Regions from separate parts of the Homo sapiens genome. Here all the other regions are linked to region 3. Evidence: fine-mapped expression QTL. A gene starts in region 3. Each other region holds a variant in brackets. All regions are shown on one strand. Distances are between the middles of the regions.

Region 1 (8,105 bases), 84 kb after region 3:
CTGACTGTCCTATTTCAGAGAACCAGTCTTCAAGTTCTGAGATTCTTTCCTCAGTTAGGTTTATTCAGCTGTTAATACTTGTGATTGCATTGTAAATTTTTTTTTTTTCCCTGAGACGGAATCTCGCTCTGTCACCCAGGCTGGAGTGCAGTGGAACAATCTCCGCTCACTGCAGTCTCTGCCTCCCAGGTTCAAGCGATTCTCCTACCTCAGCCTCCTGAGTAGCTGGGACTACAGGTGCCTGCCACTATGCCTGGCTAATTTTTGTATTTTTAGTAGAGACGGGGTTTCACCATGTTGGCCAGGCTGTCCTGAAATTCCTGACCTCAGGCAATCCATCTGCCTCAGCCTCCCAAAGTGCTGGGATTACTGGAGTGAGCTACTGTGCCCGGTCATAAAATTATCATATTGCATTATTTAGCTCTGTCAGACCCGTTAGGTTTTTTTTTATGCTGGCTATTCTATCCTTCAGCTTCTATATCATTTTACTGTGATTGTTCTTTTCCTTAGATTTGGTTTCAACATCCTCCTGAATCTCAGTGATCTTTGTTCCTATCCATATTCTGTATTCCAGCCAGTTCTGCCTGGTTACAAACTCTTATTGGAGAACTGGTGTGGCCATTTGGAGGGCGTATGACACTCTGGCCATCTGAGTGTTATCAGAGTTCTTGCTGGTTCTTTCTCATCTGAGTGTGGGTGTTCCTTTAATGTAGATTGAGTACGGTCAACAGACTTCTTTTCTGGATGTTTTCACTGGGCTGATGCTTTATGTAGGGTCTTTATTTGAAGCTTACTTGTTGTCTCTGGTTTCAGAGGGGGGTATGTTAATGAGGTGTTTTTGGTATTGAAGCTTTGGGGTGTGATCCAGTAGGTGGCGCTTAGGTGAATTGGTCAGTTGCTAGACTCTTGTTTGGTTGCGTGGCTCCCCTGTTTCCTCACAGTTTCCGTCATGCTCCCTTTCAGTGCTCTGAAACTGTGTGTTCCTCTCCCACTTGAGTGCTGGCTCTCCTTGGCACTCCTGGGATGCCCACTGCAGCTCTGGGGTGATCTCAGTGTTTATGTTCCTTTCTCAGCTTAGAGGCAGCAGAGGAAGAGATCTTAGCAGGGGTTGTGGCCGGGGGTTATTTGCTTGCTCCACCTCAGAGAGATGTGGGTCAGCAATCACTTGGTGCAGTCAGCCCAAGATGTAGGGTTTGTGCTGTGTGCCCAAGCCAGGGGTTCCCTGTCTGGTGATGAGCCATGCTGGGGAGAGTGGGTGTGGGACCTGTAGGAGACAGACTGGCTGCCTCTCCTTGGGTCGACTGTAGCTTATTGGAGGTGTAGATAAGGTACTCTTAGAGTCTTTGCTCCTTTGTTAGTTTGAAGGTGGCAAGGGCAGTTCCACTGCTGAGATAGTGGCAGAGAGGCTTTCAGTTGCCCCTGGAGGCTCTGTTCGGGGAGTTGCTGAGTTGGTACTGGCTCCACAGCTCTGGCGGGGGTGGCTGGAGGCCCAGGCCTGGAGGACCTGTCCAGTGAGGAGATATGGACAAGTCTGCCCACTTTTCCATAGGGCTGCTGTGGTATGCTTGGGGCCTGCTCCAGTCCCTAGTCACCTCAGATTTTCCAGAACCTGGAGGTGTCACCAGTGAAGGCTGAGAAACAGCAAATATGGCAGCCTGTCCCTCCCTCTGGGAGCTTCGTCCCAGGGAGGTATGGACCTGGTGTCGGCCCAAAGGCACCTGTAGGAAGTGACTGGAGACCCTGGTTGGGAGGTCCCGGCCAGTGAGGAGGAACGGGATTGGGACCCACTTAAAAAAGTGGCCACATTTTGGGAGAGCAGTTGTGCTGTGCTAGGGGTCCGCTTCAGCCCCTGATCGCCTCGGATACTATGAGGCTCAAAGGCTGGAACAGCTAAGGCACCTGAACAGTAAAGATGGTGGCCTACCTCTCCCTCTGGGAGTGCCATCCCAGGGGAAATTCAATGTCCATCTGTCAGATGGACAGCTCGGGCAGGGGTGGCTAGAGGCCCCAGTTGGAAGGTCCTGCCCAGTGAGGGAACGGGATAGGTACCTGCTTAAAGCAGCTGTCCGGCCACGTTTCGGTAGAGCAGCTATGCTGTACTGGGGGATCCCTTCTGCCCTGTGTTGGCTCGGACTCTCCAAAGCCTGAAAGCTAGAATGGCTAAGGTGCCCAAACAGCAAAGCTGGTGGCCTGCCCCTCCCCCTGGGAGCTCCTTCTTAGGGTGGTGCAATGCCGCTACTGGTAGCTGGCTGGAATTCCAAGCCAGTGGGTCTTATCTCGTGAGGTGCAGTGGAAGTGGGGGCTGTTGCTGCTTAGCTGCCTGGATTCATCCTCTTTCCTAAGTGTATGTACAGGAGTCTAACCTCTCACTTTGCCAGAGCTACGGCTACTTTTGCTGGAAAGCCTGAGTAGCTAAGGCTCCAGGGTCTCCACGCGTGCCTGAGCGGCTGCTCTGCCAAGACTCCACGCTGCTCTGTCAGAATGAAGACTGAAGGCACTGGTAGAGAGGGGTTTACGTGGAGAGCTCCTGACCTGAGGTTTGCAAAGATCTGTGGGAGAAGCATGGTTTCTGGGTCGCTCATTCGGTCATTGCTTCTCTGGGCAGGGGAGTATCCCCTGGCTCCGTGCTGACCCCCGGGGGGCCATTGTCCTGTCTTGCTTTTCTTTGTTCTCTGTGGGTCAGGTTGTTTCCTTGATTAGTCCCAGTGCGAGTATCTGGCTGTTTCAGTTGAAGGTGTTGTATTCACTCGCCCCTTCTGTTCCTCTCCGTGAGAGTCAGGTACACCAGCTGCTTCTAGTCAGCCATCTTGGCCACTCACTCTTGTGTGTATTTATGCTCTGATTTCTGCAGAAGTTTCCAGGGGTGGGATGGTGAGACAGGGATATGTGTATTTTTAATTTTAATAGATGCTTCCATATTGCCCTCTAAAAAGGCGATAATTCATATTTCACTACAACTGGCACATGAGAATATCCTCTCCCTATCTTGTGAACTCCAATAGTTATGAAATTTCTTTTTCAGTTTCTGACTGGATATAAAGTTATACCCCATTGTTACCAATTTCTGTGAGCACTAGGGGATGATATGAGCATCTTTCCAGATATTACCTTGGCAATTTGTTTTTGCTCTTTTGTGTGCTGCTCATCTTTTGCTAGGTTTGTTACTAACCTTGGGCCTTTATTCCTGGTTAGTTTCTGAGGGCTGTTTATACAGCATAGGTGTCAACCCTTTGTCATCTATGTTCCACATACTTGGATCAGATAGAGCATTTGTCTCTTGGCTTTGTTAGTCACTGAAGGATTACAGAAGCAAACTGAGTTCCAGCAGGTCAAATACAACCTTATTAGTTTGATATGTTAAGCAGCCCTTTGGAAGGGTCAGTGGGGGTGGTATGATATTGATGGGCATGGTACAATATATGCTTGTTGAAGACTGTGGTAGCTCACACATCAGCTGAATTTTGTATCTCTTTAGCTTTTCAGGGGTTCTTTAAGCAACAGGGAGGTATGCTCATATGTGTGCCTTATGCTCAGAAAAATAGCTCGATCACCAAGCAGCTGTAATCCACTCGACTGGTCTCTCTTCCTTATGGAAACTGGGTCCTGAAGTTCGGTGTCATTCTTTTTTTTAGAAATCATGCCACCCTCAAAGCCTCATCCACCTGTCGTGGGCAAAGTGACTCATCACAGCATTGAATTATACTGGGATCTGGAAAAGAAAGCCAAACGCCAAGGACCTCAAGAGCAGTGGTTCAGGTTCTCGAT[TGAA/T]GAAGAAGACCCCAAAATGCACACTTATGGTATCATTTATACGTAGGTGCAGTGTTGAATTGCTTGCCACTTTGCCTTACTTCCTGATTAGCTGGAATGATTTCTGTTGTCTCTAAAAAGCCACTGCTTGTTTCAAATTAAAGAATGAGTCAGCATCATTTGTATTCATGCTCTTTTATGAATTACAATTTTTGGAAAATAGGCATTAGCAGTAACTTTGAAATTAAACCTCTGTACCTTTGAGAGCTTCTTTGACTTCTGAAATATTTTAATGATATGTATTTAAAATCCAGAATGTAGAGACAGACTCAAACAATAGCTTGATGCAATTAGGTGAGCTTCCCATCAGGCTGTTGTGTTCACTGACGTGGAATGGCCCCGCATGGTCTACCCTGGCTAGCTTCTCTGATCTCATGTCATACCATTGTCCCCTTGTCAACTCTCTTATACCACGCTGGCTGCCTCTCAGCCTGGACAGGCCAAGCTGGTTCCCATCGCAGGATCTTGCTCGTTGCTGTGGTCTTGAATACATTTCCTTCTGTTTTTATACAGCTGGTTCCTTCACACCATGCCAATCTCAGATGAAACATCCCCCCGCCCCCAGAAGGCCATCTGAAGTAGCCATCCTTTCATGCAGGCCTCCTGTAGCTCAGAACCTTGTTTTGTATGCCACATAGCATTTAGCTCTGTTGGGCTTATTTTACTTGTTTACTTGTTTGCTTAGTTTGTTTACCTTGTTGTTTACTTGTTTACTTCTTGTTCCTTTCCTGCCTCCTCACCCAGTATTAAACTCAGTGAGAGACAAATAAGACTTCTGCCTGCTTAACGCTCTAGCCGGTTCCTTGACAGTGCTGGCTGTTATATAGCAGGCCTTCCAAATGCTTCTGGCATGAACCAATACCACCAGGAGTAATGAAGAAGTCACTTTTGGCCAGGCATGGTGGCTCATGCCTGTAATCTCAGCACTGTGGGAGGCTGAAGTGGGCAGATCCCTTGAACCTGGATGTTCAAGACCAGCCTAGGCAACATAGTGAAATCCCATCTCTACAAAAAATCCAAAAGTTAGCCAGGTGTGGTGGCTTATGCCTGTAGTCCCGGGCTGAGGTGGGAGGATCACTTGAGCCTGGGAGGTCGAGGCTGCAGTGAGCCATGATTGTGCCACTGCACTCCAGCCTGGGTGACAGAGTGAGACCCTGTCTCAAAAAAAAAAAAAAAAAAAGTTATGTTTTTCTTCTTAGTCTTCATATCATCTCTGACTTATTTCTTCCCCTTGATAGATTTACCACTTGAAAAATGCAAAATGACTATTTTGTGATTCAGGAATACCAAAAATGAGATACAAATATGGTTTTTAGTGAAACTTTTAATTTTGAAATAATTATAGATTCATATCCAGTTGTAAGAAAGAGTGATTGTACCTTTTCCCATTTCTCCCCTATGGTAACATCTTTGAAAATAATAGTGCAGTGTCACAGTCAGGATATTGGCATTGATGCAGTCAAGATGCAGAACAGGTTCATCACTTTCCTGGCCTTTTCTCAAGTTTGCATTGTGATAAAAGTGCTGACATGAGAAGATAGATATGTTTATGTGTATGTGTGTATAAATATCTATAAATATGTATATAATCTGTATATGAAAGCTCCAATTTCAACTGTTACTTGAGTGATAATATATCTGATATTTGAGAAATTTCTCTGTACCTTAAGAAAAATCTGAAATGTAGTTGCAATGTAAAAATAGTTCTTGTTCTGACTACTCAAATGTTATTTTAATCATGTCGTTTTACTTATTGAAGGTATGCTTTTTCTATCTAAAAGCATGAATTATGAGAAACATTTCTCTTGAGAAAGAAAAAGACATCTTTCTTTCCCCCATCACCTTAGCACCACAAGCTGTGTTGGGCAGGTGAATGGGGCCATCCTGCATCGTTCTTTCTTCCTTGGCTGTGCCTTTGCTGGGTGGCCAGGTAGGCAGCCTCAGCTAGAGAAACCATAGCTGCGTGTGCTGGCTTCCAGCCTGAGGTGTGTGTCTGTGTTGTCTGCATTCTCCCCAGAGACCTGGTTGCTGTCAGGCTGGAGAACGCACTCTCACTCTGACGACAGCCTGGCATTGTGGGGCTGGCAGTGACATCTGTGGTCCCTGCTCTAAGGACAGTGGGGAAATGCCTGCGTTTCTCACAGAATTACAAGTACAAATCTTGACGCTAGGTGGCAGAATTAGGCTGCATTAATCTTGACCTCTTTTGCTTCCTTATTTCTTTCTCTACATAGCATTAAAACTAGCAAATGCTTTTCTTGTAAAAAGTGGTTATCTAGAATACCTGATGTTTGGATTGTGGATTTAAGAACTTCTTCCTGATTTGTCAGTTTCTGTTCCCATCAGTCATCAGTCTATCTGGAAACAATGATATTGTCTTTGACTTGGGCTTTCCTCCATGGCTTCTCATAGCCAGTCAGTTACTGAGTTCTCCATTTGTAGAATTGCTTCTGTGCTTTCCCTCTTTAGCTGCGTTTTCCCCTGCAGGATGTAGGCTTTATTTCTGTCTAGCTCATTTGTGGATCCCCAGCTCCTACACCTGCCCAGTGTATTTTCTGATGGAAGGAGTTGACTTTATTCCTTTTTTTTTTTTCTCATCATTCTATCTTGCTGGGCTAATTTCCATTTTAATCTTTCTTTTGTCACATTGTCTTTGGTGGGTCCTCCATTGCTTAAAGGATAAAGGCCAAATTCCTTAGACTAACATTTAATGTCTTTCACAGTTTCCCTACACCTGCCTTTCTTGTTGCCTCTTATTTCTCAGCACAAACCCTCCAGTCAGATTTCTTACTGTCCTTTGAATATGCCTTGACGTTTTCTGCATGTGTGTTCAGTTGTTTTCCCTGTTTGGACAGATTTTCCCCTCTCACCCTATTCTTTCTTCTGCCCTGGTCAGATTTTACCTCCACTGAGAAGCTCTCCTTACTACCCTATTGTCTGTGCCCTAAATTCCTGTGATCGTTGCTGCCCATGCCACGCATTCCATTTATTCCATCAGCGTGTATTATTGAGTGTCTGCCGTGTGTCAGACACTGCTCCGGATGCTGGGGATACGGCACTGGGAAAAAATTCCTCCCTCATGATGATGAAGGCAAACAATAAATAAGATACATAAGTAAAAATAGGTAGTCAGCAGGCAATACATACTGAGGGGCAGCAGCATAGGAAAAATTGAGGGCCTGGGGTAGAGGTGGGGAAGTCTTCACCAAGAAGGTAGCTTCTGAGTAGATCTGAAGCAAGGATACCTGGAGCCTTGCAACTATCTGGGGGAAGAACCTTCCAGACATAGCAAAGGGCAGGTGAGAAAGCCTGGCAGTACAAATGTACCTGGCTGGTCCCAGGAGCATTGAGGAACAGAGGGAACAAGGAGGAAAATAATGGGGGCGAGGGCAGCTGGGTCATGAGAGGTCACTGCCTGGGCCTTGAGGGTTATTGGGAGAACTCTGGCTTACTCTGAGAGAGGCGGGGAAAGCCACTGGAGATTGTGAAGCTGAGAAGAGGTGTGATCCGGCTTATGTTTTACGAGGATCCCTCTGGCTGCTGAGTTGGGAACAGGCTGTAGGGAGGCCAGGCAGCAAGCAGCAGGGAGGACTGATGAAGAAGCTTTTGAAACAGTTTAGGTGGGAGACAACACAACAGTGTGGAAAGTGGGAGGATGCAGGATATGCTTTAAAGATGGATTTAAGAACTTGGTGGTGGACCGAATATGGGATGTGAGATACGGGATGTGAGAGAGAGGATGGTCAAGGGATATGTGGTAGCCAGCACAGGCCCAGTGATGCTGCTGGAAGCATCAGCGTCACAGTCTCAGTGGCTTATGGCAGCAGTGATTCCCTCCTACACACCATGCCCACCGTGGGTCGGCCAGGGCTCCATCCTGCATTGTCCTCCTGCCACAGCCCAGGCCATGCGGCAGCCTCTGCGTGAACATTGTCAGTCACTGTAGCAGGGGAGAGAGCATGGCATGCTGTTTCTTGAAGCTTCTGCCCAGAATGACATACTTCACTTCTGTGTATACTTCATTGCTCAAAGCAAGACATGCAGCCATGTCCGAGTTCAACAGGGCGGGGAGGTAGATAGAATCCTTGTGGGAGGGCACCTTGTGTCTCTGAACAACAATCCAGTCTTCCACAGGAGGCACCCAGGGTCTGGCCTGAGCAACTGTAATAACAGAGATGGGGAAGACTGTGGGTGGAGTAGATGCTCAGTTTGAAACTGTCTGACGTCCAAGCCGAGATGTCAGGGAGGGTGTTGGGGATGTCAAGGGCCAGGGAAAGGGTCTGGGTTGGAGAGACAGA
Region 2 (8,105 bases), 70 kb after region 3:
AATATTACAATGCTCATGTTTTTATCTTCTCGAAGACAGTGTACTGACAGGATAATGTATTTGTTTACTAATTGTGTCATAGATGTCATTTCTGGGTTTATTTCTCTTGATTTTTTTCTTTCTGTTACTGTTATTTCGTTTCCTTGCATATTGGTGATTTTTGAAAAATTTATTTTTATAAAAATTTTAGATTTATAAAGTACAAATATATTTCTCAGAATTCTCACATAATTTGCACCCATTTTCCCCTATTATTAACATTTTACATGAATATGGTGCATTTGTTGCAAATAATGAACCAATGTTGATACATTATTATTATTACTGTGGTTTTTTTTTTTTTTTCAGATGGAGTCTCGCTCTGTCGCCCAGGCTGGAGTGCAGTGGTGTGTGAGCTCTGCTCACTGCAACCTCTGTCTCCTGGGTTCAAGCGATTCTGCCTCAGCCTCCTGAGTAGCTGGGATTACAGGTGCCCACCACCATGCCCGGCTAATTTTTGTATTTTTAGTAGAGATGAGGTTTCACCATGTTGGCCAGGCTGGTCTCAAACTCCTGACCTCAGGTGATCCACCTGCCTCGGTCTCCCGAAGTGTTGGGATTACAGGTGTGGAGAAATATGAACACTTTTACACAGTTGCTGGGACTGTAAACTAGTTCAACCATTGTGGGAGACAGTGTGGTGATTCCTCAAGGATGTAGAACTAGAAATACCATTTGACCCAGCCATCCCATTACTGGGTATCTACCCAAAGGATTATAAATCATGCTGCTATACAGACACATGCACAGGTACGTTTATTGCGGCACTATTCACAATAGCAAAGACTTGGAACCAACCTAAATGTCCAACCATAGACTGGATTAAGAAAATGTGGCACATATACACCATGGAATACTATGCAGCCATAAGAAAGGATGAGTTCATGTCCTTTGTAGGGACATGGATGAAGCTGGAAACCATCATTCTCAGCAAACTATCGCAAGGACAAAAAACCAAACACCACATGTTCTCACTCATAGGTGGGAATTGAACAGTGAGAACACTTGAACACAGGAAGGGGAACATCACACCCTGGGGCCTGTCATGGGGTGTGGGTAGGGGGGAGGGATAGCATTAGGAGAAATACCTAATGTAAATGACGAGATAATGGGTGCAGCACACCAACATGGCACATGTATATATATGTAACAAACCTGCACGTTGTACACATGTACCCTAGAACTTAAAGTATAATAATAAAAAAAAACATTTTAAGATAATTTTGCAGTGCAGCTTACCTGGATACCTATTTAGTTGGGAGAAGGGTAAGACAAAAAAAAGGAGAGAAATATATCCATGTATGCAGTACTTTGTTCTTTTATTAAATAGTTCAGACATAAAATATGTAAAATACTCACATGCCACCACTTAGCTTAAGAAACAAATCATTGCTGACAAAATTATTTTTCTTTCATCCTATTTTTCCTCTTCCTCTGTCTGTGATATAGTTTTAATCAAATATTATGTAGATTATATCATTCTCTCTCTCTTTTTTTTTTTTTTTTTTTTTTTTGAGATGGAGTCATGCTCCGTCACCCGGGCTGGAGTTCAGTGGCTCAATCTCTGCTCGCTGCAACCTCCACCTCCTGGACTCAAGTGATTCTCCTGCCTCAGCCTCCTGAGTAGCTCAGACCACAGGTGTGCGCCACCGTGCCCAGCTAATTTTTGTATTTTTAGTGCAGATGGGGTTTCACTATGTTGGCCAGGCTGGTCTTGAACTCCTGACCTCAAGTGATCCACCCGTCTAGGCCTCCGAAAGTGCTGGAATCACAGGTGTGAACCACTGCACCTGACCTATATTGTATCATTCTCTACATAACGTTTTACAACTTTCTTTTGTGATTCGACCTTACCCTCGATTTATTCACATGGATATATTTAGCCCCAATTAATTTTAACTTTAGTCTTAACTGCTATATGGTATGCTAATGTTTGATTATTCATAATTTGTCCAGTCTTCTCATGCTGGCCATTTCAGTAGTTTTCCATTTCTGTTAAATGTAAAGCTGCCATGAACATTCTTACACATGTAAGGGACCATACCTAGGAGTGGAATTGCAGGATGATAGAGAATGCACAACCTCAACTTAGCCTTGCCAACTTGTTTTCCAAAGAGATTTCCCAATTTATACTCTACTGGCAGTTTGAGAGTGTTCCACTCTTCCTCTTCACTGCTATTGGCAGATTTTAGATTTAATGAACTTGATGACCAGCACTTTTGGAGGCCAAGGCTGGCGGAGCACCTGAGGTTGGGAGTTCGAGACCAGCCTGACTAACATGCAGAAACCCTGTCTCTACTAAAAATACAGAATTAGCCATGTGTGGTGGTGCATGCCTATAATCCCAGCTACTTGGGAGGCTGAGGCAGGAGAATCATTTGAACCCGGGAGGCAGAGGTTGTGGCGAGCAGAGCCAAGATTGCACTCCAGCCTGGGCAACAAAGAGCAAAACTCCGTCTCTAAATAAATAAATAAACAAATAAACAAACTTGATGAATGCAAAATGTCATCATTGTAATTGCATCATTTTGATTTTCAGTGAGGTTGAGTAGGTTTCACTGGCAATCCTCCTGAATTGCTTGGTCATATTCTTCAGTAGCACATTTTTCTTAAGAGTGAATATAAGCTGATCCATTTGAACACTTTGCTATTGTGAAAGTATCCTACCATTTCTTACTGTGAATATATTTTAGACTTGTGACATACTGTGTCTAAAGAATATATATATAACAATTTGGCTTTTCTTATCTGATTGTGAAAGACTTTGTCATTTTACACACTCAGTGTGCATTTCCATAGAAGATCTCAGGAGCTCCATACCAGGCACAGCCTGTGGGGGAAAGAGCACAGATTTTGGAGTTAGAGATCTGGATTGAAATCCTTGCTCTCCACTTATCAGTTCTGTAGCTTTGAACAGGCTGCTGTACTTCTTTGAGCCTTGGTCTCCTCCTCTCTGTCCTCATCTATAAATTGAGAACACCCCATCATCGTGAGGTTGAATCCGTTGTTGACCAAGTGTCCTGTATGATTTTTTGCTTAGAGCAAGCCTGCAGTAAATTGAAGTTGTTGTAATTAAGTAAAGGAAATATCTTGGGAAGTACATTTCCTTCTTTGCCTACTACCTGTTACCCATATAGAACTCCAAGCAGGGTTTCCTTGTAGTTAAAAGTGTGAAATAGGTGAGCATTGTGACTTTCAAAGGCATTATCACTACCTTATGTTCGTGAAGTCCTTTATACATTTCAAATCACTTCAGTATTTTGTCACATTATTTTTTTGTTTGCAGTAAATCTGAGAGGGAGGCAGGACAGGTATCCTTACTTATCCCCCACTTTTCCTGATGAGGAATATCCATGGTAGAGACACAAAAGGAAGCAATGTTTCCCCATTACTACTCTAGGGAGTTTTGTCTTTTATTGTTTTTGCTATTTGGTTTTTGATGTTTGAACTGATTTTTGCCCTTGAAGAACTTACTAGCAAAGTAGAGGAAAGCAACTTTTGGGCAGTTTGCACTTACGTTACTTACTTTTAAAGGATAAGGAATGTTTTGGGATAAAAAATATAAGAAAATTTAAGTATATTGAAATGTTTTCATTAGATGATGTATTCTTTGCCTGCAGGCTCTGCCAGACTTGCCTCTTTATCCCGAGACCTCACTTAAGGCACCTCATTCCCAGATTAGAATATATGTAAACTATATGCATTTTGAACACGTCTTCCTGTAGGCTCCCTCTGCACCTGCCTCCCCCATGCACCTGGTTTGTATTTGTTTGGTGTCCAATGTTCCCTGCTCCTCTCTTTGCCCTTCCCTCTTGGTCATCTTGGTTACACCTGTGCCCTCAGGACACAGGAGAGGTATCCCACAAGTGTGCTGAATGAATGGGTGTAAGTAAACTTTTTCCTTGGAAATAAATGTCAAGCAGGATATCTGCTTGACACCAAAATGGTCAATAAATTGAGCCAGAGTGTAATTGAAGTGTCTCATGCTTTGAAGCATCCACATTGACTTATTCTTGGTTTATTTTTATCAGACTTGTTGCTATCATATATGTATAAGCTCAGCAAGGAAGAGTCTAGGCTAGTAGTTTGTCTTAGCTGAATCTTTTTTCCATAAGAATAAGTAAAAGTGCTCAGTTACATTTTGTTTTTTCCCCCTTTATTCAGTACTATACCAGCTTAAAATAATACCAAAAAATCAGCCATAATGCTACTATTTTGTCTTTTGTTTTTCTAAATTCTTTCAGTTCTTCTGTCTGCGTGCATCTGTACATTTTATGCCATTATAATCATAGCATCT[T/G]TGTAAGTTCGTACCCTTTCCTTAGTATATCATCTTCCACACTTTTAATGACTAAATATTCTTGTATATAAATAATGTACCAAAGTGTATCTAACAAATTCCATGTTCTTGGACATTTAGATTAGTTTTCATTGCTGTCAGTGGTATTAAAGTGTTCCTCTCTGGTTTTTATTTTTTGTTGTGATTTATGCATGTGTGTATGTAGTTAAACATAGGGCAGTAGTAGATAGCACATGGAAAGTTAAGGGCACGCCGCTGGAGTTGGGCTCCCTGGGTTTGAATCCTGGCTCTGCTGCTTGTTGCATGGACTCCCCGGCAAATTATGGGACCTCTGTGTGCCTCCAGTCTTACAGGTAAAAGGTAGGAGGAAAGTTATAGCAGTTTATAAGGTTGTTGTGAAGATTAAATAGTATATGTAAAGAGTTTAGAACACTCATACAAAGTCTTGTGAAAACTTAGCTATTAAATAACCCAGGTTTGGGCAGGGATGTTGGATGGACTCCTAGGTAAAATAGAGTTGGCCCTAATTGTGCTGATAATTGAAGCTGGGTAACAGATACAAGAGGATTTGCTATACTATTCGTTCTACTTTTTATGTTGAAATTTTTATTCATTTATTTATTTTTTTGAGACAGGGTCTCATTCTGTAGCCCAGGCTGGGATGCAGTGGTACAATCATAGCTCACTGCAGCCTCAACCTCCTGGGCTCAACTGATCCTCCCACTTCAGCTTCCCAAGTAGCTGGGACTACAGGCATGTGCCAGCATGCCCAGACAGAAACTTTTTTCATAATAAAAATAAAAGCACATACAATGCAAAAACATTTTAGCTTTTATATTTATTTTTTGATTTCTGAATTTATTTCTTGAATGTGTTTCTAGAAGTGAGACCACAAAGTAGGAGATCTTACAACCATTTTTGAATACAGCCAAATTGTTTTTTTAAAGAATTGTGTAATATACAGTGTAATGCTCAATCTAAAACGGTTTTATCACAGTCTTAAACAACACTGAATATTATTACCATTACATGTTTTTCATATAATTTTATAGGTAAAATGGTACCTTACAGTTATTTTAATTTCTTCTTTTTTTTTTTTCTTTCTGAGACAGGGTCTTGCTCTTTCGCTCAGGCTGGAGTGCAGTGGCATGATGATAGGGTCTCTCTAGGTTGCCTAGGCTGGTCTCTTCCTGGCCTCATGTGATCCTCTCACCTTGGCCTCCAAAAGTGTTGGGATTACAGATGTTGGTTGGCCACTGCACCTGACCTAGAACGTATTTTTGATTAATGGTTGCTGTAAATATCTGATCAAGCCATGATAAACTGCTTTGAGGTGACAGCCACCACTGTTCTCATATAGCATCCCCCTCAGTGTGCAGTCATCTTCACTGTGGACCATATGCCACCGGAGGCTAGACTGCAGATGCCCCTTGCCAGTGAAATTTGACTTCGGTAAATTTTCAGATGAGTTTTGGAAGAGCAGGGAAACTACAATTCTGCTTTAAGGTGTTCTGTTTTTATATAGTGAATATATTTATATTTGTTTTTTTTCTTTATCATTTCCCACTTTTCATGATACAAATCACAATTGCAAATTCCAATACAGTGTATGATCACCACTTCTCTCTGTAGCTTTTGAGATATGGTCAACTATTTATCATAAAGATGCTGAATAATCTGATTTTTTTTGTTTTACTAATTTGTTTTTTGAGTCTCCTCTTGGTGCATTTCTTTTACAATCCTTTTAAAAAATGTAGGATGCTAAGCCTAATATTGTGTAGTGGTTTACATAAATTTTATAGTTTTCTACGTTCAAACCTATAATTTGTGAGTGATACCTTTTTACTATGGTTTCTGATGTACTTGAGCCATGTTTTATGCCATCTTCTGAGTAACCATAGGGACTGAGTGGCGACAGTGTATGAAGCCCTTTATTATTCTATATTCCCATTTATTACTTGACAAGTGGCACCAGAGGCATAAAATTGTTTTATTTGTCAGATTTGCATAAGAACTTTCTTACAAAAAGCTTTTATGGTACGTAACACATCCATAAATTCTCATAATCGTCCTTTTGAGGTACTTCTTGTAGTTTTACTGTTGTTCTTCCTTTTTCATTATTTGAGAAACTTTTAAAATAAGAAATATTTGTCATGATGAAAAGATCCTACCAATTATTTGAAAGAACCATTGAAAATTGAACATAAGGTCTCCTTTTTCTTTTTGCTTTTTTTAGAAAACAAACTCTTTAGAAAATTTTTTAGAAAACAAAATCTTTAGAAAAGTTAAAATAAAATTAAAGCCTGACTTTGTGATGAAATTAGTTGGTTAAATTTGGATGCTGGTTATCAGACTTAAAAAAAAAAAAAAGTACCTTTTGAAAGATCTGAGACTTACTTATGACCAAGAAAAAATAGTTCTAAAACTTTTGTATAAAAAGTAGCATGTAAGTTGTGTCTATGAATGTGTATCTGTGGGTGTGTTGTATCTGTTTTATAAAACTTGAATAGAGCATCTATAAAAACAGTTCTCAAGAGTGTTTGTACTGATAACAGATAAATACAGATAGGGATATAAACATCATGGTTAAATAAATAGCAAAAAAGATCAGCTTTTGAATTTTTCTTTTTTTTTAAATTTTTTTTAGTATTTATTGATCATTCTTGGGTGTTTCTCGGAGAGGGGGATTTGGCAGGGTCATAGGACAATAGTGGAGAGAAGGTCAGCAGATAAACATGTGAACAAAGGTCTCTGGTTTTCCTAGGCAGAGGACCCTGTGGCCTTCCCCAGTGTTTGTGTCCCTGGGTACTTGAGATTAGGTATTGGTGATGACTCTTAACGAGCATGCTGCCTTCAAGCATCTGTTTAACAAAGCACATCTTGCACTGCCCTTAATCCATTTAACCCTGAGTTGACACAGCACATGTTTCAGAGAGCATGGGGTTGGGGGTAAGGTTATATATTAACAGCATCCCAAGGCAGAAGAATTTTTCTTAGTACAGAACGAAATGGAGTCTCCTATGTTTACTTCTTTCTACACAGACACAGTAACAATCTGATCTCTCTTTCTTTTCCCCACATTTCCCCCTTTTCTATTCGACAAAACCGCCATCGTCATCATGGCCCGTTCTCAATGAGCTGTTGGGTACACCTCCCAGACGGGGTGGCGGCCGGGCAGAGGGGCTTCTCACTTCCCAGACGTGGTGGCTGGGCAGAGGGGCCCCCCACCCCCCAGAGGGGGCGGCCAGGCAGAGGCGCCCCTGCCTTCCAGATGGGGCGGCTGCTGGGCGGGGGCGCCCCCTGCCTCCCAGACGGGGCGGCGGCCGGGCGGAGGCGCTCCTCACCTCCCAGATGGGGCGGCCGGGCAGAGGCGCTCCCCACATCCCAGACGATGGGCGGCCAGGCAGAGACGCTCCTCACTTCCTAGACGGGGTGGTGGCCGGGCAGAGGCTGCAATCTCCGCACTTTGGGAGGCCAAGGCAGGCAGCTGGGAGGTGGAGGTTCACACCACTGTACTCCAGCCTGGGCAGCATTGAGCACTGAGTGAGCGAGACTCCGTCTGCAATCCCGGCGCCTCGGGAGGCCGAGGTGGGCAGATCACTCGAGGTCAGGAGCTGGAGACCAGCCGGGCCAACACGGCGAAACCCCTTCTCCACCAAAAAATACAAAAACCAGTCAGGCGTGACAGCGCGCGCCTGCAATCCCAGGCACTCGGCAGGCTGAGGCAGGAGAATCAGGCAGGGAGGTTGCAGTGAGCCGAGATCGCGGC
Region 3 (8,102 bases):
AGTACCTAACACATTGTGAATGTGGAATCAATGTCTGCTCTATGCCTAAGTCAATAACAGCCCTTTATATTAAAAAAGTTCATTACGACATACAAGATATTTTCATTCATAATCTATAATCACATTTATCTTGATTCTCACAACTAGACTATCAGACAACCATTGCAGGTTTTATTATCCCAAGTTATCAATGACAAAATAATAGCTTCTGGTTTTCCAAAAGGGCAAAGCTAGAAATTAATGCAATGACCCCTAACTAAAGGTTTGACCTCTCTATTATTACCCTACTTAAATTATCAGGTACACAATGAAGACCACCATGTGCTAAAAGCAACACAGAAGAAGCGTAAGTCATGCACTTAGCTCCAAACATATTTAATCCAGTCAGAGGTACAAGATCCATCCATATGAGATAAAATTCTATAGGAAAGCATCCTACAGAGCTAAATGCTAAACCGTGTAGCACCCCCAGTAGGAGAGCGAAGTGCATTTAGTGGGCATTAGCCTAATCCTGAAAGACTTTCCAGAAACTGGGGCAGCATGCTCCTGCAGTCCCATTTATTTATTTATTTATTTAACTTTTATTTTATTTTTTTTGAGACGGAGTCTTGCTCTGTCACCCAGGTTGGAGTACAGTGGCCCAATCTCGGCTCACTGCAAGCTCCGCCTCCCGGGTTCACGCCATTCTCCTGGCTCAGCCTCCCGAGTAGCTGGGACTACGGGCGCCCGCCACCATGCCCGGCTAATTTTTTGTATTTTTAGTAGAGACGGGATTTCACCGTGTTACCCAGCATGGTCTCGATCTCCTGACCTCGTGATCCGCCTGCCTTGGCCTCCCAAAGTGCTGGGATTACAGGCGTGAGCCACCGCGCCCGGCCAGTGTCCTTTAGACTGTGGACGAGTAAAGGGCGGAGAGATAGACATTCCATTTGAGTGCAACAAATTGAATGTAGACCATGACAAGTTTGGAGAACAAAGAGGAAAACACCAAAAATAGAAATTGATTGTTTTCCACCTTTGACAGAACTCCCTAAGAGTTTCAGAAAGTATCAGATAGAGAAAAAAGTACCCTCACTCTGGTAAAGAAAACAAAAATCAACAAAAACCCTAAAACCAACAAAAACAAAAATGAAAACTTCCTTCAACTTACCACAGTAAGGCTAGAAGACAGAACTATTAATAACATGTTCATTTGCTACATTTTTTATCAACCTATTTGCATTAAATAATGTTAACCTCCCACTAAAGTTATTTCTACTTTGAATTCTGAGGTAGTCAAGAGATTTAAATAAGAAAAAGACTACATCTGTCTCTTCATTGTTACTTTGTTATTCCCGATCCATAATGCTTCAGTTTGCTACATTTAGTTAAACATCAGCAAAGTAAACAATAATGTAACTATTCTATCTAGTAATGAGCTTGGAGACTTAAAAAAATATATATAGAACTTTATTCCTTTTCATTTGACCACTAATAACATACTGAACATGCCCGTGAAAAGAAATAAAACACAATGGTAGAAAACTCCAAAAAGGTAGAGTGTCTTTACCATTCATCCCCCACCCCTATCTCATTAGCAACTTTCTGATCTCGGGTGTTTTCTCCAATAGTAAAGTGTATCCCTATATCCAAAACAATTTCTCTAAAGCCCTTCTCACTCATTCAACAAACATTTAACAGGTACATTGCACAAGGTGATAGAGGAAGAGAAACTGAATATTGTCCCTGCCTCGGACATTTCAGTGCCTTTACGCCTGACTTCCACTCCTAACCAGTCTTCTTTCACAGGTACCCTGTCCCCTAAAATCAAATGTTGCTTTTCACAGTTGCCTTTACTTGTCACCTAAAGTATTTCAATTCAAAATTTCCTCAAAGTCAACTTAACAGCTGCTGATAAAATAATCATTCTATATGATTACAAAGTGTTTCACCAATACATATCCCCATTTTTTCCAAACTTAAAACTTCTTCAGTCCTTATTACTTTAGCATAGAGACCTGCACTGTTGTTTCTTCTTTTTAAAAAAATACTAATGCTAATCCTTTACTGTTTGAGCAGACTTAATCCTACCTTTTCTTTTGTCAATAAATGCCAGGTGTTTTTTAAATCACTATCTTGTCACTTTTGATTATGATATACTGATCACTCTATTTGTATCTTGAATGAAAAGACCGCTTTGTGATTTTGCTAATGATATGTAAACTAGAACTTGAGAACCACTGGATACAGGAGTACTGCTGATCTTTATACTTTCTGTCTAAAAATGAAGCCCCTGTCTCTAAATTTCAGGAACAGGGAGTTAAGGTTCCATGAAGTGTTTACTTTCCACCCTTAATTTATTACCTTAATACTTCAGCTTAAGAATTATGTGTTCTGTATATATCACGCTGCTTGTCAATATCCACACATAAACCTTCTTGTTTTGACAATTAATCTGAAAAAGTCCCCATATAGTCTGAGAGGGGGAAAACCTAATTTGGAAGAATATAATAAATGTCAGTTTCCATCACAGAATATATGCTTCTCAAGTTCAATTAACCTCTCAATGATTCCCTAAGAGGAAAGTAATTCTCCTTAGTGTCCTTGTCATCCATGGAGTGGAAATCTTTCTACTGGCAAGATTAGTAATCACTTCCATGACCCCCAAAACGGCTCTTCCTTCCATTTCCCTCAAGTACTGTCTGGAGCAGCGGTTGGAATTAATAGAGGGGCCATAATCTCCAGACCTGAATACCAAATCAATCCTGCAGCCCCCCACACCCTTAATGCCCCTGCACTTTCTTGCTTATCCTTTTTCTCTCGTCTCCATTTTTCTTTCCTCCTTCTGGTGTTCCGGAACCTATGATACTCTCCTGGTTGTTTGAATTTTTACAACCTACCAGATAATAATCTCTTGTGATCCTCAAAGCTTCCTTAAAGCAAACCCTGAATCACTGTGTTTTAAAACCAGTATGAAAGACTATTGTGTGGGATAATGTTACATTGTTTCACAGCCCTACAAAGTTTGGCCACAAAACGTGTGGGCAGATTCCGTAACTCAACCGGAAACGCGAAGGACTGAAACAAATCAACACACAAAAAACGAAGCCAGCGAGAAAGATCCAACCCGGGCCCCCTGCCTGAAATGGGACACGGGGATGACGGGGCAAAGCCGGGCAAAACCGTGCTCCTGGCTCTCGCGATTCAGGAGACGCGCCAGGCTCACTGGGGACGACAGCGACGACGGCGGCGGCTCGCATTGCTCCACGCTTCCCGTCAGGGGGGCTCGAGGGACCGCCCCAGGCCCGGCCCATGCCCGGGCTCGGAGGGAGCCCCTGGTGCGAGGGCTGCCCGCAGGGCTCCGTCCTCCCGCTGAGGCGCGGCTCCCGGAGCAGGAGGCGCGGAGGCCGCCCTCGGCGTTTCGGAGTCGGGGCGGGGAACGTCCACGGCCAACTGCGGGCAGGGGACCCCCAGGCGGCTACAACAGGTGCGCCGGGGCCGCCCACCCGGCTCGGGGCGCGCCCGCCCCTGCGCCGACCCCCGACCCCTTCCGCCGCCGGGGCCCCGCTGTTACCTGCAGCGGCGGCTCCCGATTCCCGGGAGGGCGGCCCAGGGCCGGCGCCTTACCCGCGGGCAGGCCCACTCGCCCGACGGACGCCGCGGGTCGGCGACAGCGGGGACCGCGGGTCGGCGACGTCGGGGCACAGGTCCTGCGGGGCCGCGGGGGCCGCCAGGGAGGGCGCGACCGCCTGACCGGGCTTCAGGAGCAGTGTCCTCAGCCGGTGACCTGGCCGCTACCCTCGCTCAGTGTCCCCGGCGACGCGCGGGTCCTCACGCGCTCCCTCACTTCCTGCGGCTTTTGGTCCCTCCCGCTCGCCGTCCCTTTAGTTCTGCCCACTTCGCCTCCGGGTTGTCAGGGCAACCGTAGCGACGCCGGCCCTGGCTGAGAGGCGTTAGGAGTCCGGGGGTTCGCCCGCGGAGGCCGGGGAGCAGCCGACCATGGAGCCCCAGAGTAAGGGAGGCCCGGGCTGGAGCTGGGACCGGGGCGGGCGACCGGGCTGGGGCTCCCCGGGAACGAGTGTGGGCGCCCCGCGCGCGACTCCGCAGGTTTCAACGCTCGGACACGGAAATACGGTTTGCGTCTCCTCGCGCTTTTCTCTCCTGGAGAGGGGAGAAGGGGGCTACATCCTGCCAAGTCTGTATGGTTGGGCCGCCGGCGCCCTAGAGTCCGCGCTGGGGGCTGGGAGCGACTGGAGAGCCCCGAGGTATGGGTGGGGAAGGGCGCAGCGACCCCAGCGTGCGTCTTCCTGAAACTTCGCCCGGACGGTTCCATTTACTCCTCCTCCTACTCATGATTTTAGTTTGGTAGTTTGGTTCATTAATTGTAAGTAGCCCATTTTTCTTCTAAAATGTCAGCAATTAAACACGTCCGAGGCTGGGTCTTGTATTTATTAGAGACCCCGTCTTACTCCCCGCCCCCCGCCCCACACCCCTAGTCTGCGACTTGAAGGAGAGAGAGAGAAAAGAAGAGCTTTGTCCAAGTGTATTTGATTCATTCTTAGGGGTTCTACAAGTTAGGACACTCAAAAAATGTTTGTAATCTCTTTTTCTGTTTTCCCATGTTGCTTTCGATGTATGGCAAAAGTTGTGCAGTTTTGAGTTATCAGATCTAAACACGAGCTCTAACTTACTATTTTTGTTGTTGTTTTTACCTTTCCAGGGACTTTGTTTCAAGGCCTTTCTTTCTCTGCCCCGCCTAAGCTGTCTTATTGTTCCTTTTGTTCTCAAAATAAGGGGAGTGTTTTGTATGGAGACTTAAAATTTATCTAAAACCTTTATAGAAGGATGCAGTTTGACTCTCAAACCAAGTCGTCTTATCTTGTACAATTTCAGAAATGAAGAACTCAGACCAAATCTATTCTCTGGGGAAAATGTTGGCATTTTTAAAGGTCATTCGTTTTCCACCAAGAAAGTTTCAAATACTTTTCCTTTTAACTCATTTGCTGAGGAGAAAGCTTGCAAGTTGTGACTTATAGTTGCTTGATAGATTTTGTACAGTATTTGTCATTTGCATTTACAGCTCTTTGGATTCTACATTTTTTTAACCTAGTAAAAGAAATTTAGCATACAAGAACGCTAAAATTTTTGTTTTATGTCAAACTGATGGCAGGCTGTGTATATTCCCGCCTTAGAGAAGTGAGTTGAAATATACCTTTTAAAAACAGCAACTTGGCCTGGCCCGGTGGCTCACGCCTGTAATCCCAGCACTTTGGGAGGCTGAGGCAGGCGGATCACGAGGTCAGGAGATTGAGACCATCTTGGCCAGCATAGTGAAACCCATCTCTACTAAAATACAAAAAAAAAAAAAAAAAAAAAAAAAAAAAAAAAAAAGCCAGGTGTGGTGGCGCGTGCCTGGAGTCCTAGCTATTTGGGACGCTGAGGCCGAGGCAGGGGAATCGCTTGAACCCGGGAGGCGGAGGTTGCAGTGAGGCCAGATTGCACCGCTGCACTCCAGCCTGGTGACAGAGCGAGACTCCATCTCGAAAAAACAAAAAAAAGAACTTTATTTCTTCAGATTTATGTTACTGTTTTCATGTGTAAACTATAATTTCAAGTTCTTCAGTGCTGTCTTTATCCATTCATTCATTTATAGTGCCTGTTATGTTGCAGCTCTGTTCTAGGGATTGAGGATTGAACAACGGATCGGACAGTGTTAGTTTTGGTCATCCCAGGAAAACTAAGCAGAGGCTTGCTCAAGAACTCCTGAGGTCTTGGTGGGGTTCGGAGATTGGGGGAAGAGGAGATGGACAAAGGCTCCCAAGAGGAAGTAGTACTGGGTCTGCAGAATGACCCAGCAAAGAATGAGGGCAAGGGATTCCAGGCAGTGGGAATTACTTGTACATAGGCCCTGAGACCTGAGAGCAGCGTGGGTTTGAGGCTCACGGTAGGAAGATTAGTAAAGCTGTAGCTAAGGAGAGGAGGAGGAAAAAACAGGGTTGGAAGGAGGGAGGAGAAATGAGATAAGGCTGGAAAATTCAACCGGAGCCTGATCAGAAAGGTTCTGTAACCATGTGAGAAATGTATTACTTATGTGAACTATACATTTATATCTCATGTCATTGGATTTTGAGGTGGAAAATATTTAATTTATACCTGAGGAATGACTGTAAATTTCTTTCTTTCCACATATTCTTAAATTATTTCATCAATTTAATTTTAAATAATTCAATCACCATTTAGCTCAAGTTTTGTTGTTTTTTTTTTTTTTTGAGACAGGGTCTTGCTCTGTCACCCAGGCTGGAGTATAGTGGTGCGATCATAGCTCAGTACACCCTCGAACTCTTGGACTCAAGCAATCCTCTCACCTGAGCCTCCTGGCTAGATGTGACTACAGGTGTGTGCCACCATACCCCGCTAATTTATTTATTTATTTAGAGACAGAGTTTCGCTGTTGTTGCCCAAGCTGGAGTGCAATGATGTGATCTTGGCTTACTGCAACCTCCGCCTCCCGGGTTCAAGTAATTCTCCTGCCTCAGCCTCCCAAGTAGCTGGGATTACAGGCATGCGCCACCATGCCTGGCTAATTTTGTATTTTTAGTAGAGATGGGGTTTCTCCATGTTGGTCCGGCTGGTCTTGAACTCCTAACTTCAGGTGATCCTCCCGCCCTGGCCTCCCAAAGTGCTGGGATTACAGGCGTGAGCCACCGTGCCCGGCCCCTAATTTTCTTTTTAATTTTATTTACTTTGAATAGAGCTAAAGTCTGATTTTGTTGCCCAATTTGTTCTCGAACGCCTGGCCTCAAGTGATCCTCCTGCCTCGTCCTCCCAAAGTGCTAAGATTACAGGCGTGAGCCAGCACACCCAGCCTGGAAATTCTTTTACAGTCTAAGAAACATAATTTGGATAAATATTTACTACCATTCACAGTTACTAAATATTTAAAAGGACAAGATTAAATGATCTTTGAGGTTTCTTTTAACTTGGAGATTTGTATCCAACCAGATTTCACCTGAGACGGAAGTTATTTCCTACTGTCAGCCATAATGGAAGCACTACAGACGTGGCATCAAGTATTACAGTGAATTACAGTTATACTGTCAGCAATATTATGTTAACAGTACATTGTTTATGCCGATATTATCTAACATATTTTAAACCCTGTTCCTTTTGTTACTGAGAGGTCTAAAATAACATTTTACAAGTGTAGTTGAATATAGCATCAGTAAATTGGTTATGAGGAAGACTCCTTCATAATTGCTTTTAAGGATTAAACATGTATCTAAGGACAACACCAAGGAACTACTAGAAATAACCCTCGAGTCAGTCTTTTCCGTTCTGTTTCCACACCCTTAGTTTTCTATTACTTTTAGGAATGACCTTTGTTAACTAAGTCATTAAAATCCAATAAACATAAACTCTTCAGACCCCACAGCTGGATCATACTCTTGGCAGCAAGCAGAGGAAGGCAGGGGCTACCACTGTTTTACAGAATAATAGTAAGTCAATGATCCAAGAAATGACTTCCCAGGGAAAGGGCAAATTAAATACGTTCACAACCTTGGGCTGTTGAGAGTGGTTTTGGCTCTTGGCTTGCACATTGACGTCTTTAATTATTTTCTTGCTAAACCAACTTCAGTGTTGGAAAGATAGCTCATGTATAAAATAACATGGAAAACGTACATCACTTCCCATTTGTTTTGGGTTTTTGTCCTTTTTTTTTTTTCTTTTTTTGGAAAATAGTTCAATAGTACTATCTCTTCCTTAATTTCTTAATGAGTTTTAATACCAAGGGGTGGCTTTGGGGATCTTTAGCCCAAATCTAAGCAAACATATAATCTGAGTAAAAACTGTATATTTATCAAATGCAGCATCAAGAGAAGCCCCCCGGCTCCCACTTGGTGCTACCTGTTCTGTAAGCTCTTGCTATATATATGTATTTTAAAAATCCAGCAGGCAGCAGTTTTCTGCTACACGTTTCTTTCTGTTTTTTTTTGTTTGTTTGTTTGTTGTTTGTTTTTTGTTTTTTGAGACGGAGTCTCACTCTGTTACCCAGGCTGCAGTGTGGTGGCACTAGCTTGGCTCACTGCAACCTCCGCCTCCCAGGTTCCAGCGATTCTCCTGTC
Region 4 (8,088 bases), 64 kb before region 3:
TGCTCCTGCTCCATCATGTTAGCTGGGGTGGCTTGACTAGGGGCTGGAGGATTCCCTTTCAAGATGGCTCACTCACATGACTGGCAAGTTAGCCCTAGCTGTCTGTCGGGAGCTTAGCTGGGACTCTGGACCAGGGGCCTTAGTTCTTCTCCATGTGGGCCTCGTCACACATTGGTTTGCTTCCAAGAGCAAGCTGCCCAAAAGAAGCAGGCAGAAGTGATATAGTGCCATTTCCACCATTTGCTTAGTCTTTACAGATAGAAATTTCTATCTAGGGGGAGGGCACATTGATCCCACCACTCCATGAGAAAAGTACCTAGGTCACTTTGTCAGAAGAGCATGTCCAAGGAGAGATCCATTGGGGCCATCTGTGAAAGATACAGTCTGCCACAGTACCTTAATCTGTTTCCATTTCTGTCTCTGAAAATGAGGATGGTACTAGCACCGATCTTGTAGAGTGCATGGGTAAACAAAATGAATTGCTGACTGCTTAAAACAGTGTCTGGCAGCTGACATGTGCTACATATGTGTAGCTGTCACTGTTGATGTCTTTTTCCTGTTCCTAGCACCTGTTCCCTAGCCTGTTGTGAAAAACACAACAAACAAAAGCTCCATTCAGTCTAATGTTCCACTCTTAAGTACATCACCTTCAGAGCCAAAATTCTTGAAAAGTAATCTTAAGTCATGGTTTCTACTTCCTGTCCTCCTATTCATTCTTCAGACACTCTTATCTGACTTTTACACCACTAAAATTCGGACACTGAGTGATAGGGTCACCAACATACTTGTTACTAAATACAGTGTACACTTTTCAAGGCTTCTGACAATATTAGTAACTTTATGGCACTCAATGTAAAGAAAATGAGAAATTAAACCTATGGGGCATTCCTTTTATTAGGGCAATGGGAAAAAGCAGACCACCTGCCCTTTCATCAAATAAATGTGATCTCTAGCTGATTCGTGTCTTAGAAGACCTAATGGATATGGAGGAGAAGCAGTTATTTTTATCCTTGAAAGAGGTTATTATCTAATGGCAGGATTCACTCTTTAAATGGATAATCACATCAATAGCTCTGCAGTTGTAACTGTGGCTTCTTGGGATTCTCCAGAGACACTTGAGGTGTCCTGAGGATAGAGACTTCTTGTTCTTAGTAAAGGGACTACCCATAGTGTTCGGTGGAGCCAGTCCCTAGGATCATAGAACAAAGGGCAGGGGGTTCTCTTTTTTCCCCTTCTCTCTTGCTAATGTGATAGGTGTAAGTGGCCCTCAAGCATTGCCTAGCTTCACTAATGGTCAAGACTGACAAGTGTTCTGGAAACTCATGAGTTTTAGATGAAACAATGCTGTGGGCCAGCAGAGAAGCAAGGCTTGGCTCCAGCCTAATTGTGTAGAAAACAAATGAAAATGCTTTATTTCATGAGGTTTATCTCTTCTGGATTTGTATTATATTGAGAATCTGATAAAAGAAAATGACTTAATCTGGTACAAAGAAATTTCAATCTGTTCAGAATCTGAAAAGAGGAACAGAGTCGAGGTAAAGCGAAATGAACAAGGTCACACAGTATTTAAGATACAATGCTTTCCAAGATGATGGTGGTAAAACTGTGACAGTATTTAAAATACAATGCTTTCTAAGATGGCGGTGGTAAAACAAAGTTTTGCTTTTGAAAAGTGAAAAGATAAATGAGGCCTACATCCCAAGACTTGGTTTTATACTCTTGGTATTATACTAAATATAACATTTAAATATTTTTTCTTTTAAAATAGCAAACGGATGTTTCAGAAGACAGCAATGATGATATGGATGAAGATGAGGTTTTTGGTTTCATAAGCCTTTTAAATTTAACTGAAAGAAAGGTTGGTTTCACTGGATGGCATCTGAATGGTTATTTCTTAGGCCAAAACCACTTTTATTTAATGCATGGTGAAAATGTCTTTTATGTTAAACAGTGATATTAACTATAGGGATAAGTGCTCTTGTGAAATCTTATTGTAATCCTTTTTCAATATGAAGGTGGTGGTGTTGGGTCTGTACCCAGTTAAAGTTGTTTACTCCCTGTGGTTTAGGGAATCATCTGGCTTTGCAGTCCTGATGTTGGTACTGATGCAGGAGCTGTTTGTGCTGTCTCTCTGCAGCTGTTATCTTTGCTACTTGTGTAGTGGGGATATTCTCAGGCTTTGCTGCCTCAATGTTGAGGGCATTTACTGACATTTTATTTTGTTTCGATTCATCTCTTTTTATTGATTCTCTGATGAGTTGTAATAAAAAGTAAACCAGCTGCTTACCCACCTCAGAATAAGATGCAGGCTACACTTAGTCTTTAATTTTGAAATAAACTGTCCAGTTACTTCCATCTATCTTTATGAGATGGACTAGAGTTGCCATTCCAGTGTGTCTGAATGTTAATTATGACTCTCTTACCACTCATCATGGGATGGTAAATAACCAGTGTATTTACTTTTGAGAAATGCTTAAGCAGTCAACACTGAAGACATACAAGACGTTAAGGCTATGGCAGGAAACTGCCCTTAGCTGTAAGATGAAAAGTGATAGCTTTTACTCTCAGGTTTTGTCCTCTATGTGATGGCTTGTAATAGGAAACAAGCTTTCTCTTTGCTTTCTAGGGTACCCAGTGTGTTGAACAAATTCAAGAGTTGGTTCTACGCTTCTGTGAGAAGAACTGTGAAAAGAGCATGGTTGAACAGCTGGACAAGTTTTTAAATGACACCACCAAGCCTGTGGGCCTTCTCCTAAGTGAAAGATTCATTAATGTCCCTCCACAGATCGCTCTGCCCATGTACCAGCAGCTTCAGTAAGAGATTCTGGGAAAATATCTTTGAACAGTAATTTTTTTTTCAAATAGATTCCTAAATGTCATTTAAGTAGAATATGTAGATATAGAAAGAGTTCTGTCCTTGGTTTAAGTGGGTTTAGTGTGAGGGGAGTGGAAGAAACATCCTGTGAAGTACATACATTATTAACAACTGGCTTTTTGAAGAGTTTGTGACAATAATCATGAAATTTTAACTTAAGATTTAAGTGATATATAAGTAGATAATTTCATATAGACTTTGCATCCCCATTTGATTGAAGTTTTTCACCTTCACAGATAGCTTTCTGCAACATGAATAAAATAATGAACAATTACAACAATAACAAAACTGGTAAAGTTCCCAAATTCTATTGGTATGTTTCATAACAAATGAAACCATAGTCCTGATACTGTGGCTAGCTTTTCAGGGTTTTTGTTATTCTATTTTTTAATCCAGAAGTTTTAAGTTTACAAAAATATTTCAAATGTAGCTGTGAAATCTAGCAAACTGAGTGTACTAAGAATTGTATTGTCTGTGCTTTGCAA[C/T]AGAGGACAAAATATAGGCAGATTCTCTTATTTATTTCTATCTAATTTAAATTTTTTTTTTTTTTTGGTAGAGACAGGGTCTTGCTACATTGCCCAGGCTGGTCTTGAACTCCTAGGCTAAAGTGATCTTCCTGCCTCGGCCTCCCAGTGTTGGGATTACAGGTGTCAGTCACAGCACTTGACCTAGACAGGTTCTTTATAGAATATTCTTTCTCAGAGGTCATAGCCCTTGCGTTGTGGTTTTCCTTTAAATAGCTGTAGGAATGCAACTCTACTCTGGAAACCTTTACGTTTGCTGTTTTTTCCTAGGGATTCGATGCTTCTTATCTCCTGCTCCCTGCTCTCTCAGCTGTAGCTCAGATTGTGCTTCTGGTGCCTTAAGTGGTTTTTGTTTTTTTTTGGTTTTCTTTTTTTCTGATCAGCTGGAGCTCACATTTATTTGGTTTTATAGGAGGGTGATTTGCTTTCTCCTAGTCCTGTTAAAGCTGAAGTGAGCCAAGCGCAGTGGTGCACGCCTGTAGTCGCAGCTACTCAGGAGGCTGAGGCAGGGGGAATGCTTGAGGCCAGGAGTTCCAGGCTGCAATATACTATGATTGTGCCTGTGAATAGCCACTGCACGCCAGCCTGGGCAAAATTACAAGACCCTATCTTTTTTTTTTTCTTTTTTTTTTTTTGAAAAGGCCAGGTGTGGTGGCTGACACTTGTAATTCCAACACTTTGGGAGGCCGAAGCTGGCAGATCACTTGAGGCTAGGAGTTTGAGACCAGCCTGGCCAACATGGCGAAACCCCAATTCTACTAAAAATACACCCACAAAAAATTAGCCGGGTATGGTGGTGCAGACCTGTAATCCCAGCTACTCAGGAGGCTTAGGCACGAAAATCGTGTGAACCTGGCAGGCAGAGGTTGCAGTGAGCCGAGATTGTGCCATTGTACTCTACAGCCTGGGCAACAGAGTGAGATTTTGTCTCCAAACGAAAAAAAGAAAAAAAAAAAAAAGGAAAGCTGAAGAGGACGGTTGTTCTGAGTTTCTTCTTTTGTTCAAGGGCATCCAGATGCACAAGGCTATGTTTAATTTTCAGAAAGAAGAAACATTAAGGCTTTGTTGCGATTCCATTGCTAGAATTTAGGTTGTGTGTTTATGCAGTTTCTGCAGTATGTCAGAAATTAGTTCCAGACTCTAGCAATTAGAGACTGTGGTAGTAGTCACAGGCTGTAGTGACATTGGTTGTGGCTGTATACCTTTGTGTGTTTCAGTTAAATGTTCATTGCTTTAAAAAATTCAAAAATTCAGATTCGTATATATTTTTAACTTATGCACAGGCAGAGCAGTGATACATTGAGTGAATTTGAGACTCATCTGATCTGTTAGTTGCTATATATCCACAAATCAGCATAATCTGAGAGATATATCATAGTATTATAAAAAGTAATACATAATCTAAAATGCAACTGATTATGTAAATAAAAATCATTCCTGTAGACTAAGTGTTCAGATTGAATGCCTGCGTCACAGCAGAACCCACTGAAGATGCCTCACCGGGTTTTCTGTGCTCTGGTTTGTTGATGGATTTCACTTGACCCAGCAGGTAAACAAATGTTGTGTGTGTGCCTTGCAGGAAAGAACTGGCGGGGGCACACAGAACCAATAAGCCATGTGGGAAGTGCTACTTTTACCTTCTGATTAGTAAGACATTTGTGGAAGCAGGAAAAAACAATTCCAAAAAGAAACCTAGCAACAAAAAGAAAGCTGCGTTAATGTTTGCAAATGCAGAGGAAGAATTTTTCTATGAGGTAAGACTATCCTGCTTATTTGTTTAGATGTAAATAAGGATTTTCTTGAAAATGATTTATCAAGATTTATTGTTCTCCCACTTTAGGTCCAAGTCTTTCAAGTGTGGCTACTCTGTTTTTCTGTTTCCCCACAGGACCTAGCAGCTAACATAGTGCCAGGTGCATAGTAGGTACTCAGGAGGCTAGGCACCAGCCTCCTTGCCTGCACTGTGGTTATGAGCATGAGGAGGAGGAGGAGAAAAGTGATTAACCTGTTAAGAATGATTAGGCATTTATAATATGCTTCCTGTGAAATCTTTCATTCTAAAACCATGCGGAGAGGTAGACATTAGCCTGGGGTTTACAGATGTGGACTTTAAGGCATAGGGAAATGAGGGAAATTACCTGCGATCACACAGCTGGTCAGTGTGGAAGCTGGGGCACCCCTGCTGCTCTGTGTCCTTAGTCGTGGATGTCATCCTGCTGGTGGGATATCTCCAGCATTTTTTTCCTATAAAGGTAGCTTGTACTGTGATGGACAGCCATATACCAGAGAATATTCTTACCCTCTCTTCCTCTGAAAAATCTTGAAGTGGGCCAGGTGCGGTGGTGCACACCTGTAATCCCAGCACCTTGGGAAGCTGAGGCGGGCAGATCACCTGAGGCCAGAAATTCAAGACCAGCCTGGCCAACAGGGAGAAACCCCATCTCTACTAAAAATACAAAAAAAAAAAAATTAGCCGGGCATGGTGGCAGATGCCTGTAATCCCAGCTACTCGGAAGGCTAAGGCAGGAAAATTGCTTGAACCTGGGAGGCAGAGGCTGCAGTGAGCCGAGATCGCGCCACTGCACTCCAGCCTGAGCAACAAGGAAGAAACTCCGTCTCAAAAACAAACAAACAAACAAAAAACACAAAAACATCTTGAGCCAGGCACGGTGGCTCACGCCTGTAATCCCAGCACTTTGGGAGGTCAAGGCGGGTGGATCACGAGGTCAGGAGATCGAGACCATCCTGGCTAACATGGTGAAACCCCGTCTCTACTAAAAAATACAAAAAATTAGCCGGGCGTGGTGGCACGTGCCTGTAGTCCCAGCTACTCGGGAGGCTGAGGCAGGAGAATGGCATAAACCCGGGAGGCGGAGCTTGCAGTGAGCCGAGATTGCGCCACTGCACTCCAGCCTGGGCGACAGAGCGAGACTCTGTCTCAGAAAAAAAAAAATCTTGAAGTGTATCTCTGAGGGGAACATATTTTCCTGAATTGGATGATATCACATCACTTTGAAGACTTCTGCAGAAGACTAAAGCGCTACAAATTTAGCTGTGCCCTTCTTTTCCAGGAAGTAAATAGTAAACATAATTTTTAAAAAACATAGGCCGGGTGCGGTGGCTCATGCCTGTAATCCCAGCACTTTGGGAGGCCAAGGCGGGCGGATCACGAGGTCAGGAGATCAGACCATCCTGGCTAACACGATGAAACGCTGTCTTTACTAAAAATACAAAAAATTAGCCAGGCACAATGGTGGGCACCGGTAGTCCCAGCTACTTGGGAGGCTGAGGCAGGAGAATGGTGTGAACCCGGGAGGCAGAGCTTGCGGTGAGCCGAGATCACGCCACTGCACTCCAGCCTGGGTGACAGAGTGAGACTCTGTCTCAAAAAAAAAAAACAAACAAACAAAAAAAACAAAACCATATGCTTCAACACCTCAGGTTGACCATTTGGGGGGAGTGTGTATGGGTGTTTTAAGATGGCGGGGTATGCAGATTTACTCTGTCTTCACACAAAAGCCTGATGCTAAGGAAGCAGCTGAGAAAGTGAGAAAAGAGTGTTTGAAGACAAGTTCTTGTTAAATATCAAATTTTACAAGTCTTAATTTCATTATGTTTCACAAGATTATTTTGACAATTAAATGAAAATACCACTTAGCTGCTTGTTCACCTCTTAGAAATTGCACACCTCTATCCCTGTTCCTCATGTGGGTTTAAAATCTACTTGGTTTGTGTTTTATAACTTCTGCCTGAATGTCCCATTTGAACTTTTTCAATTCTGAGTTTTGCTTTTTTTTAGCTCTCATTCTTATTTAAGCATATGCCAAACGTAATATTCTTTGCCGTAGATCAAATGGGTTTTGTCTTTGGGTTGTCCCGATTTTTAATTCATGGTTACTTATTTGGTTTAGAAGGCAATTCTCAAGTTCAACTACTCAGTGCAGGAGGAGAGCGACACTTGTCTGGGAGGCAAATGGTCTTTTGATGACGTACCAATGACGCCCTTGCGAACTGTGATGTTAATTCCAGGCGACAAGATGAACGAAATCATGGATAAACTGAAAGAATATCTATCTGTCTAACCCATTTCCAATGGACAGTGATGGGCTTGTTTTTGTAAAATTACCAGAAAACTCAGTGGAGATTTACTGAAAAACTCAGACTTTATTCAGATTAAGTTCCTCTACAAAAAGTAGGGTTCTGTCCCATGTGTCTCTGACACATTTACAAAATACCAGTTTTTTAAAATTTTGGTCAAATTATGAGTGGTTGATTTAAAAACTTTTCCAAGAAGAAGAAAAGCATGGAGTAGTAATTTAAAGAACTCAATAAAAACTTCTATTTTTTATTTTAAAATAATATACACAGTGTTATTTTCTTCAAGACCGTCCTGTGGATGTGAAATCCGTCTTCGCGTCATGTATCTCCCATATCCAGCAGTTCAGCCATCCAGCTACCTTTGGGACCCTGCTGCACCTTGTGTTTGCTGGGGAGTCACTGGAGAGTGCATCTCTGTTCAGTTTCAGGGCACGTCTCACACATTTGCTGTTCCTTATTCATTGTTGACACAGGGGATAGGTGATCCACTACTTGCTGTAGAATGTCCTTACTTTCACTAGGAGGCAGATTACTGAAATAGTATTGTGGTACCAGCTGCATAAATCTGTTTATTTAAGACAAAAAGATGAG

Direction of the effects. Positions count from the first base shown, and alleles are read on the strand shown. Sizes are in standard deviations (SD) of each study's normalised expression. Not every link is listed here.
For the expression in skin of the gene that starts at base 3,900 in region 3, G is the low allele of the variant in region 2 and T is the other (moderate effect, 0.64 SD a copy in TwinsUK).
For the expression in unexposed skin of the gene that starts at base 3,900 in region 3, allele C in region 4 goes with a higher level than allele T (large effect, 0.84 SD a copy in GTEx).

Evidence for each region.
Region 1: its variant is fine-mapped to the expression of FANK1 in testis (GTEx, PIP above 0.99).
Region 2: its variant is fine-mapped to the expression of FANK1 in skin (TwinsUK, PIP 0.95).
Region 4: its variant is fine-mapped to the expression of FANK1 in unexposed skin (GTEx, PIP above 0.99). The same link has a PIP of 0.9 or more in sun-exposed skin.

The regions. Positions count from the first base shown.
Region 1 is chr10:125,976,529-125,984,633 of GRCh38, forward strand. It overlaps FANK1 (fibronectin type III and ankyrin repeat domains 1), which reads left to right. Exons shown (of 11, transcript NM_145235.5): 2 at 3,633-3,810. Among named protein-coding and RNA genes, the nearest start is that of FANK1-AS1, 7.3 kb to the left of the region's middle. RefSeq lists a silencer at 5,883-5,932. The variant TGAA/T (reference allele first, on the strand shown) is at 3,766.
Region 2 is chr10:125,962,658-125,970,762 of GRCh38, forward strand. All of the region lies in intron 1 of FANK1 (fibronectin type III and ankyrin repeat domains 1), which reads left to right. Among named protein-coding and RNA genes, the nearest start is that of FANK1-AS1, 6.6 kb to the right of the region's middle. The variant T/G (reference allele first, on the strand shown) is at 4,337.
Region 3 is chr10:125,892,665-125,900,766 of GRCh38, forward strand. It overlaps FANK1 (fibronectin type III and ankyrin repeat domains 1), which reads left to right and starts at 3,900. Exons shown (of 11, transcript NM_145235.5): 1 at 3,900-3,991. The coding sequence starts at 3,979. It also overlaps a transcript of DHX32 not described here. RefSeq lists silencers at 3,405-3,484, 3,705-3,784, 3,945-4,084, 4,176-4,470.
Region 4 is chr10:125,828,794-125,836,881 of GRCh38, forward strand. BCCIP (BRCA2 and CDKN1A interacting protein) reads left to right here. Exons shown (of 7, transcript NM_078468.3): 4 at 1,769-1,858; 5 at 2,627-2,814; 6 at 4,979-5,153; 7 at 7,311-7,758. The coding sequence ends at 7,481. It overlaps DHX32 (DEAH-box helicase 32 (putative)), which reads right to left. Exons shown (of 11, transcript NM_018180.3): 11 at 7,544-8,062. The coding sequence ends at 7,894. Among named protein-coding and RNA genes, the nearest start is that of BCCIP, 9.3 kb to the left of the region's middle. The variant C/T (reference allele first, on the strand shown) is at 3,361.